2 separate regions of the Homo sapiens genome follow, and region 1 is linked to region 2. A link means that fine-mapping ties the variant in region 2 to the expression of a gene that starts in the linked region. Tissue or cell type: whole blood. Region 2 holds a variant in brackets; the other region holds the start of a gene. All regions are shown on one strand. Distances are between the middles of the regions.

Evidence for each region. PIP is the estimated chance that this variant, and not a neighbour inherited with it, causes the effect.
Region 1: DAPP1 starts here. The variant in region 2 is fine-mapped to the expression of DAPP1 in whole blood (TOPMed, PIP 0.91).

What each region holds. Positions count from the first base shown.
Region 1 is chr4:99,815,198-99,817,884 of GRCh38, forward strand. It overlaps DAPP1 (dual adaptor of phosphotyrosine and 3-phosphoinositides 1), which reads left to right and starts at 1,630. Exons shown (of 9, transcript NM_014395.3): 1 at 1,630-1,817. The coding sequence starts at 1,717.
Region 2 is chr4:99,893,046-99,895,732 of GRCh38, forward strand. LAMTOR3 (late endosomal/lysosomal adaptor, MAPK and MTOR activator 3) reads right to left here and starts at 1,382. Exons shown (of 7, transcript NM_021970.4): 1 at 1,290-1,382; 2 at 910-955. The coding sequence starts at 918. RefSeq lists a silencer at 1,481-1,570. The variant G/C (reference allele first, on the strand shown) is at 1,568.

The DNA of each region.
Region 1 (2,687 bases), 78 kb before region 2:
TGCTAAAAATGGGAATGAAATAGATACTAAAACACCAAATAAAGGGCTCTAGAGAGGGAACAGGAACTCTAGTGCCCAGGCTGTTCCCCTGTCACTGCTGTATGCATATTCAGTATCTCCCTGGCCTGCACTGGCCTCTCTGTTCAAGTGGGCCCTGTCCTTCTCTGTGAGCAAACTGTAGCCAAAAGAATTTAAGTGCTCATTTAGTCAGTTATATATGTATTATCAGAGCTTAGTCTTCAGCAGACTGCCTCCAGACACTCAGGAACTTCCCACTGGCAACCAGTGTTACCCGGGTCTCACCGATCCCGGGTGAACAGTGGTAATAGGGAGGAAGATGAAGGATAGAACCATTGCACAGCAGCCTTTTGCAATCATCTAGTCCTTTAGGAACAGTTCTGCTGTGCTGTTTAGTCCTCAGGCCACACTGTGAGAACAAGTTACAGAGCACTGTGGTGAGTGCTGAATGAGTCAGGGAGTAGAGATAGGAAGAGAGAGAGAGAAAGGGAGAGGGAGAGAGAGACCTGTAGGTACATAGAAAAGGCAGGAAGCAACATATGTCCTTGACTCATTTGATACTGCACTTTGTTCCACTTCCCAAGGATTCAGTCACTGCAATTTACCTTTAGCATTCCAGGCAGATAGAATCCTGCTCTACATATGAATCTGGGCACAAAGCCATGCAGGTGTGAGTAAGCCCATGAAGGAAGTGGCACTCAAAGACTCTAGGAGTTCAGGCCAGGTGCAGTGGCTCATGCCTATAAGCCCAGCACTTTGGGAGGCCGAGGTGAGTGTATCACCTGAGGGTGAAACCCTGTCTCTATAAAAACACAAAAATTAGCAGAGCATGATGACGGGTGCCTGTAATACCAGCTACTTGGGAGGCTGAGGCAGAAGAATCACTTGAACCCTGGGAGGTGGAGGTTGCAGTGATCTCAGGTCATGCCATTACACTCCAGACTGAGTGACAGAGCGAGACTGTCTCAAAAAAAAAAAAAAAAAAAGACTCCAGGAGTTCTAATATGCCCCATTAGGTGGGCACCAGAATGGCCCCTTGTAACTTTTTCCTACCTTCTCCTCTCCTAATTCTTTTTCTGTGGAGGAAACAATAATTGTCTCTGAATCATCCCTATTCGGAGCATTGAGGATATATTAGAAGGTCTGGGTAAACAAGCAGAAATATTGCAAAAGTGCTAAAACATCAAACTTCAGGGTCGAATTTGTGGTTTGCTTCTGCTTTTTCTATCCACTCTAAAGGTGTTCCTGATAGAGAAGCTTCCTCAGTGTTCCCTGTGTTGGTGTGTAAGACAGAAAGAAGATGGGGTAAAAGAGTGCACGCATCCTCCACTACAAACCAGAGGCTGATAGCATTAGGGAGAAGCTAGGGTTTGGCCTCACACAAGCAGTTTGCACTGTTGTCCAATCCCAGGTGGGGTGGTTGCCTCTTCATTTCCTTTGATAGCAACCGCCTGTTGCGTGATGTAGTGTGGGTGTCCTCAGAGGTAGCTACCTAAGTTTGCATACTTCCTGACTGACAGAACACTCCTGCCAGTGCCTCCAGGCCAGGGTGGTGGTGTTGGTGGGAGGAGTAAGTAACCAAGTTTCACTTCCTTGCCTTGGAGACTCAGAGCCATAGCAGGCTGCTGTCTCACAGAGCGAGAAGGTGTCAGGAGCAGCCCAGTTGTGTCTCTCTCTCTACCTCTGTGAAGGGCGCGAATGGGCAGAGCAGAACTTCTAGAAGGGAAGATGAGCACCCAGGATCCCTCAGATCTGTGGAGCAGATCCGATGGAGAGGCTGAGCTGCTCCAGGACTTGGGGTAAGGCAGCAGATCTCCTTTCAAAGTACCTAGTGGGTGGACATTGACTCCGCACTCCCACCTGCATGCTTTGATTAATGACTATCTTCAGTGCCTTGTTGCCCTCTGCCACCTCAACCATTTATTTTTTTCCACTTTATTCATTTGTATCTGTTAAGTATCTTCTTGTCTGGGGCTAATTCCATTGGAAAAGCAGGCATTATTTTTCTAGATGTGAAAACAAGTTGGTTGAGAAAATAGGGAAAAAAATCAAATGTTGGACATTCTTTGAGAAGAGGGACAGAATTGGGATATAGAGGTGATGTTGCCTGGCTTCCTTGATGTTGCTCTGGTTTATGAATAAATGCGCTGTTCAAGAGTTTCTAGCACTGACCCAGGGACAGTAAAAGGACTGTGTTTCTGGTAAGATAAACAGAAAGCTTACCCTACTGTAAGGGAGAGGGACTTTTTCAAAAGACAGAGAATGAGGAAGTTCCTGCAACAGTCTCGCTTGTATATTTCTTTCTCCTGATACTGCATTTGTGAGATTTGATATCGTATGTATGTCCAGAGAGCCAACTTTGAGCCTTTCAGTACCAACAATCCAGGAAGAGGATAAAATTTCTGCTTCAAACAGGTAAGCATAGGTAGGTGGAGTCATTGGAGCTCTGTCTTTAAGAAGGGACCCAGATGACAACTCATCCGGGTATTTAATAAGAAACAAGTATTACACAAGAGAGGAATTGGGGATTTCCCAGAGAAACTGCCTAATGCACTGGGAATATCCCAATGAAGGTGGCTTTGACACCTGTGCATGAGGAGAGGCAAAACCTTTACCTTCTGCCTGGACAAATAGCTCTAACTCTTCATAGCAATCCAATGACATAGGAG
Region 2 (2,687 bases):
CTAAAGAAGTAGAAGACTATTTTATTTTTCTAAGCTGGGGCTCACTGCAACTTCCAACTTCTGGGCTCAAGCAATCGTCTCGCCTCACTTCCAGCATAGCTGTGACTACAGAGGTATCAATGCGCCTGGCTGATTTTTAAATTTCTTTTTGTAGAACGGGGTCTTGCTATGTTGCCCAGGCTGATCTTGAACTCCCGGCCTCAAGTGATCCTTCCATCTCGGCCTCCCAAAGTGCTGAGATTACAGACTAAGCAACCGCATTGGCCAGAAGACTATCTTATTTTGTCTCATTACACTCTCTTATCCCAGGAATTTCACTGACAATTTAGGTATCAATTTTGACCTCACATGGATTAATCAGGTATCTCTTGTTTTGAGCATCCAGCACTTACTATTCTCCAAACCCGACTGATCATTTTATCCTCCTACACACACACACACACACGTTACCATGTTTCTAAAGAGGCATGGGTTAGAAATCATCGTAAATTGCTACAATAAACCAAATGAGATATTGTTATCACTTACTGGAAAAAAGTATTGTGGGTACATGTCCTACTGACCAAATTCTGACAGGAAAAGCAGCAAACCATCATTCAGAATTTCAAATGGTAAATATACAGAGCCTCTCTTATGCCCCAGCTGGACTGGGGAGTAGGGAGAACCTAATTTTCTCAGTCTCAAGCACCTTAGTGTCCTACACCCCCATTCGAGGCAGAAACTCAGGATCCTGCAAATTCATTCATATTAGTCTCCCACTTCAGATATCAGAGAAAATAATTAACTGGGATGGGTGGGGCTGGGAGGATCAAAACAAATTTCTGTTTGGGAAGTTCTACCTCTCCCCGCTCAGTATGCCCCTCAAAATTCCCCACTCTCCCCTTCCTCTTATGTAGGGGTGTCACTCACATCCGCCATGATGAACCCCCTTCTCTCGCAGGATCAATCTCCACGCCTGGAAGAGAAACTCCCGGTGACTCTTCCCTCTTTGGCTTCCTCGTCCTCCCCACCCACAACTTAATACGCGAGATCAGCCCTGGTCAGAACCAGGTAAAACCCCCGCGGTTCTAGGGCTTGGCCCAGCGAGCCCAGTGGGAGTCGGAGTGCCCCAGCACCCCCACAGGTACTCAGCTGGCACACCTTACCTCAGCCCACCCCATCCCTGCCCCTCCACCCCAAAGAGCTAGGCCCAAAGAAAAGAAGAGAGGGTCCTCTCCTTCTGTTTAATCTCACCACCCGCGCCACCTGCGGGACTAGGCCTCAAAACCAGGCAAAGTAGCGCCAGTTACCTGGGGTTTCTGGGCTGCCTGGTTCTCTCCGCTGTCACTTCAGGGACAGCTTTAAAGACAGGTTCCTCCTCAAGCCACCGTCACATGATTCATGACCTCGTCTGCGCTCCAGGAAGCACTTTCTAAGCCGCCGTCGCCCTACGATACGGGATTTCCGGAGGGGCCCGGCGGAAGCTGCGAGGGCGCGTCCGGCGGCCGCGCCCCTCCCCTCCCCCCCGCCCCGCACGCGCCCCGCCCCTCCCCCGCCCACCGCGGGCCGCGTCTTGCGCCTGCGCCTT[G/C]TGTCACGGGCCGAAGGAAGTCAGCTGTGGGGTAGATTTGTACGAGATCGCTGGACCCTAAGGAACCCAGAAAATGCAAGCAAGGTTATGTGTTACAAGACATTCTTGTGCAGAGAGGGTGTATAAATGTCATTAGTTTTGCAGGGTCTGTTATCTTAAAACCTTTTCTTGTAGATGAAGAAATTTGAGGGGATGGTGTGATGAGCTGAAGAGCAAGCACCAGATTGCCTGTGATTGGAAGTACCAGGTCCACAGGTTTCTGACCTGTTTCCTAGGCTCTTGTGACTTCCCCATGGGTGCTCTTTACTGAAGGCCTTACCTAGATTGAATGGGGAGGAGCCATGGGTTTTCTGGAGCACTTCAAGCGTCTACTTTTAACATGCAGACACTGATTACGGGCACCTTCTATGTTCCCTTTTACATCAGAATTTTTAAAAATTAGTAAGGTCTCATGTAATAAATAATAATTGAAAAAAATAAAAGGCTTTCCGGGTGCGGTGGCTGACGCCTGTAGTCGCAGCACTTTGGGAGTCCGAGGCGGGACGATCCTTTGAGCCCAGGAGTTCCACAGCAGCCTGGCAAGATAGGACCCCATCTCTACAAATAATAATAATAATTAAGAATTATCCGAACGTGGCGTGCACCAGGTACTCGGGAGGCTGAGGCAGGAGGATCCCTTGAGCCCAGGGTTTGAGGCTGCATCGAGTGGTGATCGCCCCACTGAACTCCAGCTTGTGTGACAGAGCGAGACCCTCAAAAGAAAAGCTTCTTTAGAAATCGCATCCTCTTTCAGCTACCACACTGTTTTTCCTCTACTCCCTTTCATAGCCAAATTTTCAGAAAACTTTAGCCTGGTTTTCAATTGCTGCTTCCATATGTCACAAATCTAATCAGAGTTCTGTTGATTCTACCTCCTATCTTTGAAAACTATTCACCTATCTATATTCCTACCCTACTCCAAGCCATGATCATCTCTCTTTTGACAACAACCTCCTATTCTTCTTACATTCTCTTTTGCCCTCCAGTCTCCACACAGCAACAAAAATGATGTTCTAAAGACCCAAATCACATCATTTAACTCCTTCCTTGAAAATCAAGTTTATTGACTTAGGATAAAGTT